Regions from separate parts of the Homo sapiens genome. Here region 1 is linked to region 2. Evidence: fine-mapped expression QTL. Tissue or cell type: whole blood. Region 2 holds a variant in brackets; the other region holds the start of a gene. All regions are shown on one strand. Distances are between the middles of the regions.

Region 1 (8,188 bases), 29 kb after region 2:
GGAGGCTGAGGCAGGGGAATCACTTGAACCTAGGAGGCGGAGGTCGCAGTGAGCCAAGATTACGCCACTGCACTCCAGCCTGGGCAACAGCGTGAGACTCTGTTGGGGGGAAAATAATGGCAGCAATGTTGAGAGTATGTGCAAAATTTCTCCAGCAGTTTGCTGTCTTGAAGTACAATAGTTATGTGGACATCTGAATTTCAGAAGGTTTATTTAAATGCAGTTTTACTAATTTAGAATTTTATTCCATATGCCATGTTATCAACTGGGATGTGAACTTTTAACAAAATGGTTTGAGGAATGAAACAACTGGGTTGACTATCTGAGAAGAAGGAAAAGAATCAGTGCTTTGTAAAGAAAATCAGTATGTTGCATGCATTTACGGTTATAAATAGCTATATATGTGAAACTAATAAGGTAGTATAACTTGAGTTACTCTGCGATTCATGTAACAACATCTGTATGAACATTACAATAACACAGGTATGTATATTTGATCTTTATTTATTTAAAACATTTAATTAAGGGCCCAAATGCATTGGATTAGACTTGTGCTCTCTAATTCGATGGTCACTGGCATGTTACTAAGCATTTGAAATGTGGCCAGTGCAAATGAGATACTCAGTTTAAATTGTATTTGATTTTAATTTAAATATAAAACAGATACTCAATTTAGTCATTGGAAAACTTTAAGGTATATTTGCAACAAGTTAGGTATGAGAGTCTACTATTGCAAATGTAAGTTTTATAAAATTGAAATACAGATCAAATTTCTGATAAAAATTTGGTGTCTAAATTGAGATGTGTTATAAAATGCACACTAGATTTTGAAGACATAGTAGTAGTGTGCTTTTTGTGTGAAGAAATACAGAATCATTTAGTTAATATTATAAATCCTCACCTAGATATGTATTTTTTCTATTAATCTTTTTTATCTCATGAAAGTAAAATATTAGAATTGCTGTATGTACTAAGAGTTATTTCCTGAATTTTCTATACTTGCAATCTCAACTGACATTACATCAGAGTATCTATTACAATCATATTTTATGTTGTAAAAGCTCTTTGTGTGCTAAACTATAACTTGGGAAAGAAAAATCTGATTTTGACTGATGGCATTCTCACCTGTGTATAACAGAAATCTATGTTTTAGTCTCTTAATTTGTGAATGATACCCATTCTTAACATTACCAATTGCTTTCAGAGTGACAGTGCAACCACAGTTTGTTACAAGGCAAATTAAAGCAGTTTTTTTCTCTGCATCTGTTTTCCTACGTTTTTGGAAATAAAACCTAACCTTATGAGATTATTATTTAAAAAAGACTGAAAATTTTGATATTCTAGCTAACATTTATGTAGAAAAATAGGTTCTTTCTAGTATTCTTGGAACTACATATGAATGTACTAAATGGCTTCTTCAGCTAGGCCTTATCCTGTTTCATTCAAGATGACGGCGGTTATTTTAATAATTAAAATAAACATACAGATGAAAGATGTGAACTTTACCTACTACTGGCAGGATATTGTAATCCCCTTGTAATGTTGCCTTTGAGGGAGAGGCCATATACTCTTTGTGGGTTACTCCCTGTACTTATAACACTTTTCCTATCTGTAGATATTAAATCTCAGAAACAGGAACAGGTAGGTAGTATATCTAAATTCATGTAATAAGTACTTTATTATAATAAGGGTCTGTTGTACTAACATTTTTGTTTCTTCTTAAGCAGCTTGAATTGGCTCCCATGCCAGCTGTTAAACTGTTTCCTCTCACATAAAACACCCTAACTGTAATGTGTCTCAGTTAATTCAGGAGAGTGAGTTGTGTAAAGTACACCTTTTTCTTAGATGTTGTAGGATTGAGTATTTATGGAGTATAGAATTAACAATGAAAGGTGTCATTTAACTTCAAGGATTTTTTTCAAAAAGAACTTTGTGATGCCTAGAAAATATTCTCTATAAAAACAACGAATTCTAGATAATTCAGGCGAGGTCAAAGAAGCTTCTAAATGTAAATACGGACAAAATACAATTACTGTAAGAAATCTTTCTGATAAGGCAAAGTTAACATAACTAGAAATGAAAACACTGTGATTGGATGTGTGTCTAGTATATGGAGATATAAAATCAGCAAATAATCTCAAACACTATCCTTTGTAATATCAGTATGCAGAGACAAATGGGACAGAAACTAGCAATCCTATTTAACTGAAAAGGAAACTGGGGCACAGAAGGCTTTAGTGTCTGTTGCTATTAATTTATTTTTATCAGACAGGCACTCCTTTTGGCTATGATCTGACTATTCCTCCAGTCCATGAACCTCCAAGCATAAATATCAATAAAACAATAAAAAAATGGCCCGGCGCGGTGGCTCACACCTATAATCCCAGCACTTTGGAAGGCGGAGGCGGGCGGATCACCTGAGGTTGGGAGGAAGGCCTGAAAGACTGCTTACTCATCATTATTCAGAGAGAGCAGTGGTTCTTGAACATCAGGTTTCTAGAACTCCCAGAGAAATAATATACAAGATAAACAGGACTGTTCATTGGGCCTTTGCACCCTAACACCTTGACTCTTATCTTATTGACATTCAAATACAATTCCGGTGGAAAATCTGTAGAAACTGACAGGTGTGGCGCCTGAGCTCTCCTCTCTGGGCTTCCTCCCAGTTCCCTTGGGCCTCGGCATTCTGGGTCAAGGTTGGTTCCCTCCGGCCTCAGGGCCCCGGGCATGGCCGGCATCCTGGATGGCACGGCGAAGGTTGTGGATCTGTAGAAAGAGGGCTTCCAAGACGCTAACAAGACAGGAGAGACGAGTCTGATTCTCCTCAGCCTGTCGAGGTGTTCTGTCAACAGTTCTGGGGACCCCTCACGAGTCCTTCCGTCCTGTAATCCCCCTAGGTGTCTGAGCGACCGCCGGCTCTGCCTGAACCGCTCAGGTTCGCACCTTCTGGCATCTTCTCGCACTTTCTCCAGCCTTCCCGGGCAGGGGGATCCTGGCCTGACGCTCCCCGCTCCCTGCCCCCGCCCTGGGTCTCTGGGGTCAGCAGAGCCACCCAGTGCACTGCGTTTAGGCATGCCCACATGGAGAGAGGCGACCACAGCGGTGATCATAAGCCCATGGTGGGCAGAGGCCCTATGGAGCCAAGGGCTCCGGCCGCCACCCCCGCTCCGCCACCAGCAGCGCTGCCAGGACTCGCTCTTCCTCCTCCTCCTCACACGCCGGCTCGGATGATCTCCTGCCATGACTCAGCGCTTCTCGCAGGCTGCCCTGCTGGGGACACCGGCTTCGCTCGGGCCCCTCCCGACGCGTCCACCCCCTCTCGCCACCCACGCCCGCCCCCAGCCGCTGGGCCTTTCCCAGTGCGGCCGCCGCCGCCACAGCTGCAGTCAGCACCGTCACCCCAGCAGCATCCGCCGCCTGCACCGCGCGTGCGGCCCGCCCCGGCCTGACCCCGCCGCCGAACCCGGCGCCAGCCATGGAGCCCGAAGCCCCCCGTCGCCGCCACACCCATCAGCGCGGCTACCTGCTGACACGGAACCCTCACCTCAACAAGGTAAACCCGCAGGCCCACCTGGCCGCCCATCGGCCCCTCTCTATCAGGGTCAGGGCCCTCTTGCAGGTCCCCGCACCATGGCCTCGCCCCTCCGCCGCTCCCCTGGGAAGGTTCCCGGTGAGCGGCCGCGGCCTGGGGGGCCTTGGTGTGGGCAGAAGGAAGAAGGACGCCTAATCGGGTCCGTATCCACTAGAGTGATGGCAGGGCAGTGCTGGTGCCTCTGCACCTCGGCATCCCATGTTAGGGATAGAGGTAAAGGTAAAGGTTAGTGATAGAGGAAAAGGTGATACTTTTCGGCAGCTCTTCTCCAAAAACAAGAGCCCAGACAATGAAAGTAGTATCAGACAAAGTGTGTGAATGGAGTGCCAGGTCAGACTCCATGTGCCACTCACTTACTGGTTGCACACACAGTGTGGCAATTATTGGAAGTTGATAAGGCGAGAAGTGGCTCAACTGGTCCTGCCCAGACAGAAACGTGTACTGAGTGCCTTCAGATCACGTTAGCAATCTGGAAATCCAAGTCCTCTCGGTTTCTGGAGTGACACGGTTAAGAGTCTGGGAATGCGTGGTGGGTGGCCTCTGTCTTGGACACTTTGCATGGCTTGGTAGAAGAACTCTGTCCCAGACATGGGACTGTGGGTAAAGCCATTTCTTTTCTTTCTTTCTTTTGTTTTGTTTTGTTTTGTTTTGTTTTTAATTTGGCTTTCTGGAAGTTAAAAAAAAATTTTGTTTAGAGCTGCTCTCTTTTTATTAAAGGGGAATTCAGTGTACACCCTGTTCAGAGACTCCTTTTCGGATCCTGGTAACATTTCATTTTCCTTCACTGGTGATGCAATATAAGCACTCGGGATGTCTCTCAAATAAAAAATACCTCCGAATTTATCATTTTGCTTCCACACTTATTTTACAGCCAGGTTTGTCTCGGGATTGTTCCTTTTGTGTGTGTGTGTGCGTGCGCTTTGGACATTTCCTATTTATTCAGGAGTCTGAAAATGCCATCAGTCAGCACAGAGGTTTGTTTAGTTATTTTGGTTGTCTCTTTGGTGGACTGCATTTCACATTAAGAACAGAAGCTCAGCTTTTTCCTTGTCGTGTTCCTGATGATTTGTTGATCATATTAATGACTTAAAGACATGATTTATTTAACAAGTTATAGTCAGTGTGAGTGATTTTTTTTGTGTGTGTGGTGACAGGCACCTTTTACAAATCTATGACTGTGTGCTATCTGCCGTCATGTAGCATTATTAAATTGTAAATAATTCCAACTTATTTCTTTCTTTAAAATAAATTTAATTGCTAGTTTGATTGTTTTTTCTTTTCTTTTATTATTCTGCAGGTTTGCCACCTATTTTCAGTAGAACAAAAGTAAAATTTGATGTGACAAAACTATTTGTGACTTGTATGTGTCACCTGCCTACTGTAATTTATGACCAAGTTGTGGGTTGACACTTAAGAAGGACCACATGAGTTGTATAACCTGTTTGATTTTCCTCAAGTTGGGGGCAAGAGTGTCTATTAAGAGTATGTAGATGGCATGAGCAATCCCTGAGCAAGAGTAATTATTGCCTTTACTATGCTTACATCAAGAATTTATTATTATTATTATTATTATTTGAGACGGAGTCGCGCTCTGTCGCCCAGGTTGGAGTGCAGTGGCGCGATCTCCGCTCACTGCAAGCTCCACCTCCTGGGTTCACGCCATTCTCCTGCCTCAGCCTCCCGAGTAGCTGAGACTACAAGCGCCCGCCACCATGCCCGGCAAATTTTTTGTACTTTTAGTACAGACTGGGTTTCACCGTGTTAGTCAGGATTGTCTCGATCTCCTGGCTTCGTGATCCACCCGCCTCAGCCTCCCAAAGTGCTGGGATTACAGGCATGAGCCACCGCGCCCAGCCAAGAATTTATGATATAACAATCCTTGTGACTCCTGTTCACAAGGTTACTAGGAATTAAGGATTAATTCCTACTTCAGAATAATAGTATCACAAAGATCTTCTATCAAAGATAAGATGTAACATTAATATGTTAAAAGCACATTTTCAAATTTGTAATACTTGAACTTTTTATCTGCATTATGTCAAATTGGATCCACAATCCAGTGTACCAACTTGGAGGCAATCGATGGAATAATCTTTTACTCAGTTCTAGGATGGTTATCTGGTACCTTATGGGAGTAACAGAGTTTCCTATGTACCATTGAAACTACAGCTATGGGACTTTCTTCATCTGTCATACATTCAAGACCTCTAGGCCTTTAATTTTGCTAGTAGCTCAGGAATGTTTTGGCTTATTTTTATTCTTATTATTTTGTAATAACCTTGGCTCCAAAGAGACAAGAGTAGATTTTACTTCCCTCAACAACCCAGCCTGTCACATGTCTTCTTCAACCACACTAACACAGAACTTCATCATTTACCTTTGGGTAGCTGCAACAACAGTTTTGCTGGTTTTATTTCCATTGATATAGTTCATTCTACATATATATATGAAAGAGACACCTTCATTAATTAACATTTTCTTCACTTTTCTATTATCCAAGCATTTATAGTATGTTATTATTTCCTATTATGTTTAATGTAAAATCAGTCTGTCAATTGGGTTTACAGTCTTCTCCAAATTTATCTTATTCGTTCCCCAATGTAGGCTTCCACTTAAAATATATTTGCTGAATCTCTTAATTCTTTCCTTTTTGTGTGTAATTTCTACTATGAAAATGTCTTAGTTGATTTAATAATGATCTTTCTAGGGAAGCATTTCTTAGTTATGTTAGTCTTATTATTTAACACCTCTGTTTTTATGTATTCAGTTGTACTATATAATTTTGTATTTACTAACTTGTCTTTTTATTTTCCTTTTTTTTTTTTTGAGACAGAGCCTTGTTCTGTTGCCCAGGCTGGAGTGCAGTGGTGTGATCTAGGTTCACTGCAAACTCTACCTCCTGGGTTCAAGTGACTCTTGTGCCTCAGCCTCCTGAGTAGCTGAGATTACAGGCATGTGCCACTATGCCCAGCTAATTTCTATATTTTAATAGAGACAGGGTTTGGTCATGTTGGCCACGCTGGTCTCAAACTCCTGACCTTAAGTGATCTGCCCGCCTCGGCCTCCCAAAAGTGTTGGGATTACAGGCGTGAGCTACTGCACCCGGCCATAAGTTGTATTTTTTTTTCTTATTTCTTTGATTGTCATAGGGCAGGAGTCACAATATTTAGTACAGTATTTTGCTCAGTAGACATTAAATAAATGTTTACTTAATGAATGAGCCATGTCTTTATTTTTGTCTTTAAACAGAACTCAGCTTTTAAAGTGATAGTTTAGGCATTGTCCTCTTTAAAGTAATTTTGTGAAAATAAATTCACATTGAAGTCTAAAGTTTAGTTCACTTCCTATGCCATTATATAGTATGCTGAAATGTAGTCAGAAAAGTTGAAATGTGGTTTAAGCTTGATAATCTCATGAAATTTTAATTACTTGCTGGATAACCTAAGGGAGGTGCTTCATCTTGGTAAAATCAAAGTTAACAGTAGATATGGTATGAATTCAAAAATTTTCAAAAAACTTAAGAGAATTAGGATCTTCATTTGTTATGATTCATGTATGAGTCTAAGCCTTACTATTTGTTTGTATTAAAATATGCATCATTCAAGGTAGGATTTCATCAAAACAATTGGGGAAGTAAATCTGCCTCATGTTTATGAGATTTAATATTTTTCTGTGCATAGCCCTAACTATTTTTGAGATGCTTATCTTTGCCGGTTTTATATAAATGTGTCTAATTTAATGTTTAATGTTTTTTATTTTCAGGGATATGGTCTAATATAGATGAGTTGTGTTTTAAATTTTTTTCTCAATAATTTTCATGTGACTAATAATATTTCATAAATTGCCCTTCAAAATTAAAATTCTACACATAATAAAATAATCATGCCTATTTTTTATTCTCAATTAGTTTATTTCCCTTTGCAATGGTAGAAAACACTAATTGATAGTTCTATCATAATTGTGCTTACATGGTTTCTATATCTTAAGAGTAAATAATAACATGACCCATAAGTAAATCTCCAAACAACACCACTCTTCCATATTTTAGGCAGTTTGGTTCAGTATAAGTCATGTTTAAGAGTTACGTTCCAGTAGAAGATAGTGTTTTATCGAAGTTAATTTGGGTCATCATTACTAACTTTTACATCTAAAAAATCAGCTTTTGTAGCTGTTTGTTTCCTGGCATGACAAGACCTAGTTGGGTGTGTTGTAAGAAAGAGAGAGAAATAAGATTCATGGCAATGAAGGAAAAGTACCCTAAACCTCTTTTTCTTCAATGTAAACTAGACCTGAATGAATTATTCAGAAAATTTCATCCAACCACATTCTCTAGAGTTGCCTCTGCAACGTGAGAAACTGATTTATTATTTAACATAGAATCCCACTTATGTGAAAGTCATATACAGCCAGGTACCTCTGTATATGTTTGTTACCTTGCTGCAGTGGAAACAACAGTAGTAGTATAGAATATCACAATAACAAAATGTGTGCTGTAATAAGAAAGGTGAGTTTGATATGGTAACTCTTGAGACAGGTGATATGGAGTATAAAAAATATTGAAGAAAGGAATGGATTTGAGATTTTGCCTTTTTCAGC
Region 2 (8,188 bases):
ATTTACCTATTGTCTGTCTCCCACCATTAGAATGTGAGCCTCCTCAAGACAGACATCTGTTGGTCTTGTTTACTGCTGTGGCCCCAATGCCTAGAAAAGTTCCTAATTTATAGTAGGTACTTAATAAATATCTGTTCAATGATTTGGGTTTTTCCCTCAAGAAAAAAGCATGTTTCAAGGTAAGATATCTAAGAAGGGTACAGAGTCCACTTGCTTACTTATAATGAAAGATGCAAACCAAAGACAGAGATATCAGAAGGCTCATCATTAGCTTTTCTAAAACATTCTATTCTCACCCCACTAATATGAATTAAATTTCTGCCTCTTGGACATTGATGTTAATAGACATCTCAAGTTCATCTAGTCTGACCCACGCTTTTCACAAAATATTTAAAATATAGTGAAAACTTAACAGCTTTAAGAACACTAGTGTGATGGGAGGAAATTTATATTGATTCCTACAGTCGTTGACAAAGACTCTTCTTGACCAAACTTTGGTTAGGCTCCTCTAAGCCCTTTTCTTGACTAGGCCTCAATCCTGGCCTATAAGAGCAGCGACTGAAAGCACAAACTATTTCTCCCAACTCCTCCTGCCCTCCCAACTAAGAGACATGGGCAAACACTAGTATAGTTTCTGTAAGCTCGAGGCTGTGTTCCCAGGATGACAAACCCAGATCCCTTAAAATGCCTGCCTGAGAAAGCTCAACACTGCCAAAAGAATTTACTGTTCATTCCAGCCCAAAACCTGAGTATAGGCCCCTGATCTCTCTTTTCTTAGAGCATTTACTTTAGAAAACTTGCTATTGTAAATCTTTTCTCTCTTTGAGGTGTATCCTCTACATTCCAGGAATGTCTTTCTCAAGGACCTGGGAGCCATCCCTTTGAAGTGTAATCACCAAGAAAGATAAGGCCCTGTTGTGCAGTCTCCCTGGGAGTGTAGGTGCCTAACTTTGATAAGTTCCAATTGACAGACAAAGACAGACTAATAATCATTTTGAGCCAACCCCCACTAATGTCCTGTCCTTCAGTACTTTTTCTTTAGTACACCCAGATGTTTAAAAAGCCTCCCACCTTTTATTTCTGCAAAATTGGGTTTAGTTCTGTACTGAAGTATTTCTCTTCTATTGCAGTAGCTCAAACAAATTCTGTCTTGTCATTTTCAACAAATGTCCAGTGAATAATTTCTCTTTAACACCATGAGCTAGGTAGCTATTATATGTGGCATGTTTGGCTCTATCTTAGGGTGAATGAATTTTCATAGATTGTGTACTACATTTAGCCAGAATTTGAGATTCCTCAACATGATGATATTTTCCAGGAATGGTTCTTCACACTGTCTTCACTTTGATGGGAGATGAACTCAAGAAAGGTCCTAGGGATGGATCTCTGGCTAAAACAAACAAACAAAAATAATAGAGCTATATCCTGAAGCAATACCCAAACATCTACATCTCCAAGCCCCTCTTGATAATCTAAATTTAGGCCACCTGGAGTTTTGTTTTGTTTTTTTAATTGTCCCAATTGGATTTTGCAGTCTCAGTGACTGTAGGACCTCCAAGTGTCATGGATAGTTGGGTATAGAACCTGGGACTCAAGAGAGACATCTGGGCTTAAAGACACCTGGGCTTGGGGACACAGATTTGAAATAATTAACATTCAGGTGAAAACTGAGTTGGTAAAATTACCCAGCAAGAATGGGTTAACTATGAGAGGAAAAGAGGATCAAGGACAAATCCTCCTAGGAAATGCCAGTGTTTTCAGAAATGGTGGTGGACTGTGCTTCCCAACTGTTTACATGTCATAGCAGACATGGAAAATAGCATTTGTATGACACACTGGGTAAACTGTGAGACATCTAGGAGTATTTATATAAGGCTGCATGACATTTTTCTTTACTTTCTGTGTTAGTTTCCTAGGGCTACTACAACAAAGTACCACAAACTGGATGGCTTGAAACAACAAATATTTATCATCTTACGTTTATGGAGACTAAAAGTCCAAAATCAAGATGTCAGCAGAGCCATGTTCCTTCTGAAGCCTGTATGGCAATCCTTCCTTGCCTCTTCCTTGCTTCTGGTGATTTGCCATCAATCTTTGGTGTTCCTCGACTTGCAGCAATTCAGTATCTGCCTTCATCTTAACATGGTGTTCTCCTTGTGTGTCTCTCTGTCTTCACATGGCTATCTTCTTATAAGAACACATATTGGATTAGAGGTCCACTCCACATTAGTATGACTTCATCTTAACTAATTACATCTGTAATGACCCTGTATTAGGCTGTTTTTACATTGCTATATAGGAATACCTGAGGCTGGGTAATTTGTAAAGAAAAGAGGTTTATTTAGCTCACAGTTCTGCAAGCTATGTAAGAAGTGTGGCACGGGCATCTGCTTCTTGTGAGGACCTCAAGAAGTTCACAATGACTGGGGAAGGCAAAAGGGAGCAGGAAGTGTCACATGGCAAGAGAAGGAGTGAGGAGGGAGAGGTGCCACATTCTTTTAAACAACCAGATCCTGCATGTATAGAACAAGAACTCACTCATTATTTCGAGGATGGCACCAAGTCATTCATGAGGGATCTGTCCCCTTGAGACAAACACTTCCCACCAGGCCCCACCTCTAACACTGAGGATCATATTTCAACATGAGATTTGGATGGGACAAACATACAAACCATATCAGAACCTATTTTGAAATGAGGTCTTATTTTGAGGTACTGGGAGTTAGGATTTTAACCCATCTTTTTTGGGTAGGGACACAATTCTTAATACTTTCTTTATATTCTATAACTATAATAAGAAAAATTTTAAAAAGTAGTAGGGGTGCTAAATATTGAATTGATATAATATTTAACCTAACTTTTTAATATCAGATTTTATGTTTGAAATTGGTATACTTTCTTTCTAATTATATGTGATCATTACCATTGGTGGGAAATGTTCATATGAGTAGGTAGTTTAAAAAGTGAGAATATTTTTTATAACTACTTAACAATTTATGACAGTTGGAATTATATCTAAAGAATCTATCATCCCTTTTTTTCAGTGACAAATGTAATAGTAAATTTCTTGCAAAGATGATGATTTTGAATACAATCAAATTTTCTCTTGATGAACAAACACATTATTAGGATAGTCATACTATAGCTAGAAAGAACACTACTAAAATTGTAGTCAGCACAAATTTTATATATTTCTTTATTTCTAAACATTGTGCCATAAGAAATAAACACTAATATATTTGAAGACAGAATTTTATCCTGCTTGCAGCTCCAATAGGAAAGAACCCCTACCTGGCTTCCCCTGCACAGGCAGTTGTATCTTGAGCTGTGCACTCTCCTCTTTGGGCTACCAAAGTTGATGTCCAACTTGGCCTCTCCCAGATCTACTCAATAGAACAGTGAGTGCCATATGATGCTGGGACGGAGGGAGGCACACTTTCAGATCCACTTTTCTTGGATGACCATCACAGGAACACAAAATAAAAATGCTTCTAATGATAGCAATCAGCTATAAGGTTCTGTACTTCCAGGTCCCACATGGGTGAAACAATATCTCTTTGTTTCCTGTTTGTTGGGAAGCTCTGAGATAGAGGAAGTGGAGTCCTTAAAAGAGAAACAGATTAAGCAAGAGAAAAAAAAAA[AT/T]AAATGAGTGTAGTGTCCCAGAAACTAAGCAAGGGTGTGGTCCACAAAGTCAAGTGCTGATGATAGTCTGGGTAGATAAGGACTGAAAGGGTCCCACAAAGAGGTTACTGGAGACCTTGTTGAGAGTAGTTTTAGTCAAGTGGTAGGAGCCCAAGCACAAGTTTCCATGGGTTGGAACTGGAAATCAGAATGGCAGTGAGAAGTGGGGACAGTGGAGGCAAACAACTGTTCTGTAAGCTTGGATTGCTACTCCGTGTCTCTAAGTTTCCTAGTTTTTTGTTTTGTTTTCTTTTGGTAAAATAGGGCATATATGAACACCAACCTCATAGGATTTTTGGGAGGATTAAAAGAATTAACATGAAAGCTTTCTGAAAATTATAAATCACCAGAAATGTATAAATACAGCCAATTATTATCAGGGATTTTAATGAAAATTTGTGATTCTTCTTGTACCATCCCCTCTCCCCAAAGAACCATCTCTTTTAAGTCTGGTTAAAAAAAAAAAAAAAAGTAGTTAAACCAGGAAATAGAGCTAAACGGTGGCCAAAATTTTTGATCCTCTTTTGTGCTCAGATGATAATGGAAGTAAATCCCCCGGGATGCCACTAAGAAAGAGAAGAAAATCACCCTGAAGAGCTGTCTCTCTACAAACTGTTGGATTTACTCTCTGTGAAGAACGTATGTTTTATTAACAGTGATTTAACTTTGGGAAAATTCTGAGAAAAAGCTGAAAGACACTATGATTAATTCCTTGAATTTGCAGAGAATATAAATTCTAGGAAGACCTGAGAGTATAGATTTGGAATGTGTGTGGCCTTGGCTGGGCCTGAGAATCATAATGGAAATAGATTGCTATTATAGAAAGACCCATCAGTGAACCTAGCTGGGGTCTTCTGCTATATTCAGCTAGAGGAAGGCCATGTTCCAGAAGAAAGTATTCCTAGACCAAAAAACTTGGCTACCTTTTCCATAATGCATTCACAGCAGAACAGCTAAACCGGGTGATAAATATGTGTGATGCTGAAGTGGTGTCAGGTATAGCTTATGTAATTGCAACTCTACATCCTTAAATCCTGGAATTAGATTTATTTCTGTAATCAAATCATTTCACTTTGCCACATTATTACCTGTATATGATTACTTATGTAGATCATTCAGCTTAAGAAAACATTAAAACTATTTTCAGTATGAATTAAGACTTACACTTTTTTTTTGAGATGGGGTTTAACTCTGTTACCCAGGTTACATTTGATCTCCTAGGCTCAAGTGATCCTCCCACCTCATCCTCCCAAGTAGCTGTGACTACTGCACTCCAGCATGTGCCACTGCACTCGGCTTACACTATTTTGAATTACTATTTTCATTTTCTGAAAACTGGTGTTAAAGCAAAAATTGTACCAGGTGGCTGGGCATGGTGGCTCACGCCTGTAATCCCAGCACTTTGGGAGGCCGAGGCGGGCGGATCACGAGGTCAGGAGATCAAGACCATCCTGACTAACACGGTGAAACCCCGTGTCTACTAAAAATACAAAAAATTAGCCGGGCGTGCTGGCGGGCACCTGTAGTCCCAGCTACACGGGAGGCTGAGGTAGGAGAATGGCGTGAACCTGGGAGGCAGATCTTGCAGTGAGCCGAGATCTGTTGCCCAACCTGGGCAACAGAGCGAGACTCCGTCTCAAAAAACAAACAACAAAACAAAACAAAACAAACAAACAAACAAACAAAAAACAATTGTACCAGGCAAAGTAAAATAGGCCAGGATGACATTACTCTATTCAAGGCTATTGCAGTAGGGGAGAGAGGCCAGAACAAACTCTGAACTTGACTCCACTGAGGCAGAGGGGGTAGGGTTTTTTAAGGGCTCGGTTGAACTGGTGGACAGTACTGGAGGACATTAGGGGAAAGTCTTAGGCCATCTGTGTTTGCTAATTGGCTTTATCCAAAGTAAAAATAAACTTCTCATATGTTTATGTTAGAAGGTAGTTTTGCAACTTGGAGCAGATGCCCACTAAAGTTAGGCTCCTACTATCCCACAGGAACTAGGAGATAGGAGTACTATATCCTTTGATAACTATATTTCAAAGAAATTGCTCTCAGGTCCTTGAGACAAGATATTCCTGGGTTGTAAAAGTGGCAAGAACTGCTCACTAGTAAAACTACTCACTAGCCACATGTGGCTATTGAGCACTTGAAATGTGGCAAGTGAGACTGTGAAACTGAATTTTTCATTTTTATTGATTGAAATTTAAATAGCCACGTGACTGGTGCCTGCCACACTGGACAATGTAGGCTCAAATTACCTCATCATCATTTGATCTGCAGAAAAACTGCTGCTATTAAATGTAATGTCTATAATCTGGATCATTCTCCAAAGAGAAATTATCACTGGCGATTAGAGACGCTTGTACTCACTTTGGATGGTGGCAGTGAGAATTAAGTTAGATAATGTATATGAAAGTGCCTAGTAAAATGCCTAGTATAAAACAGGCACCAATGATTTTAGTTTAGTTTTCAGTCTCCTTCAGGGGACACAAAATGAATTGTGGAAGAGTGTTCAAAGTCAAGAACATGACAAATAATTGCTGGTATGGGTGTTGCAGGGGCAGAAGTGTTAATATTCCTCATGGTTACATGGTTACAAGATACTCTGGCTGTTTTGTAATCTACATGAAGTTATTTAATCTTGGAAATAAGCACCTTCTTTATGCTTACTCAAATAAAAATGCCAAATTGTAAAACCATAAACATTTGGGTTACTCTCAATACATTTAATAATAATCTATTATTGCATGATGTTATTGATGCATTCTTTTCCTTAGAGGAGTTAAAATAAAAACCTTTATAAAGACTAAGTCAGAACATCTTCTAAAGATTCTTGTGATGTAAAGGCATGATTTTATATATTACATGTGTTCAAAAGAAATTATATCTTCTTCTGACAGTGAATTATATATTTAAAAATGTGGGATATACAGAAGAGAAAAGGAAAAGTAACATATATAATGAAGGAAAGAACAATTTTGGCAAATGTGTTTCAGCAGAATATGAGGATGTTGGCATACTACAATTGGCCTTAGTCTGAAAATAAGCTACTGTAGCTCCAGCCATCAGAAATTCCACATTTTTTAGCTGTGGGTATACAGCTGTGGGCTGGTTTCTCCCAGACACTATATTCTCTCCTATGTCTGACTTGTCTTTTTCTCCACTGTTGGTCACCATCATCTATTTTCAGTTGTTTTCAAAAGTTTTAATTTTCTCCTGGGAATTGCATAGTGATAAGTTTCTCCAAGAGATGCTTAAATTTTTATAACATGATGAGGATGTTTATATGAAAGAATCATTTTGAATGAATTATACTTACTCTCTGATAAGGAGTTTGGGGTGCTGCATTCAACCAAAGGCAGAATAATGGAACTCCTGGTCCTGGATCCCACCATGCTGACACATAAGAATAAATAGATTTTAGTAGTTTATTTCATAATTGGCCTATAATAGGGAGGTATTACATACTGACTTTTTATTCTGAATCTTATGCCAAGGAGATAGGACCCATTACATAATAGCTAGAAAGGTTTTTTTGTTTTGTTTTGTTTCGTTGTTGTTGAAGCAAAATTAAGCAAATTGATTTAAAATTGTTGAGGTTTACACAATGAAGAAGTCATAAGATTATAATTTACTAACAAAGACCATTAAAGCAAATTCCAATAGTCCATTTAAGATACTTATTTTACAAAATTTCAACTCATACTTCTAAGGAACATGTCTATAGTGTAAAATAAGACAAAACTACATAACTGTGTTTCCTTTTGCCAACTATTGAATATATAACAAATAGTAAAGAAGAAAACTGACATTTGCCAGACAATTTCTGTATGCTGGATGAGCACCCAGAAAAGACCCTTTTCCTCCAGTTTTGTAAATACGTTTTTAGTTATCATCTACCTTGCCCTGAATTCACTTGACTTTTTCACTTTCAGTGATTTTATGATTCCTTTGGTTACCACAAGTCACTTTCATGTTGTAATGATTGATTAAACATGCTAATTTTTAATATTCTACAGATACAGTATGTTACTTTTACTCTTAATTTTTATGTGAATCTTAAAGCATATTAATTTCATATGAATAGCTGACAAACATCATAGACTTTTAAGACTATTATGTAGGAATATTCTTATTTATAAGCATTAAAGAGCTAAACCAGGCCAGACACGGTGGCTCGCACTTGTAATCTCAGCACTTTGGAAGGCAGAGGTGGGAGGACTATTTGAGCCTAGGAGATGGAGACTAGCCTGGGCAACATAGTGAGACCCTGGCTCTACGAAACAAAAACAAAAATTAGCCTGGCATGGTACACCTGTAGTACCAGCTACTTGTGAGGCTGGGATGGGAGGATAGCTTGAGCCCAGGAGGTTGAGGCTACAGTAAGCTGATATCACCACAGCACTCCAGCTTGGGTGACAAGAGTGAGGCATTGTCTGGGGGGAAAAAGCTAAACCAAAAATAATTAGCAAAATTGGGAAGTTGGAACATGCTTAAAATTTTG

Evidence for each region. PIP is the estimated chance that this variant, and not a neighbour inherited with it, causes the effect.
Region 1: it holds the start of ME1, and the variant in region 2 is fine-mapped to the expression of ME1 in whole blood (TOPMed, PIP above 0.99). The same link has a PIP of 0.9 or more in blood mononuclear cells.

Annotation. Positions count from the first base shown.
Region 1 is chr6:83,426,242-83,434,429 of GRCh38, reverse strand. ME1 (malic enzyme 1) reads left to right here and starts at 3,379. Exons shown (of 14, transcript NM_002395.6): 1 at 3,379-3,553. The coding sequence starts at 3,476. RefSeq lists enhancers at 1,964-3,163, 3,106-3,275, 3,896-4,165 and a silencer at 3,486-3,675.
Region 2 is chr6:83,455,299-83,463,486 of GRCh38, reverse strand. No RefSeq gene overlaps it. Among named protein-coding and RNA genes, the nearest start is that of ME1, 28 kb to the right of the region's middle. The variant AT/T (reference allele first, on the strand shown) is at 3,642.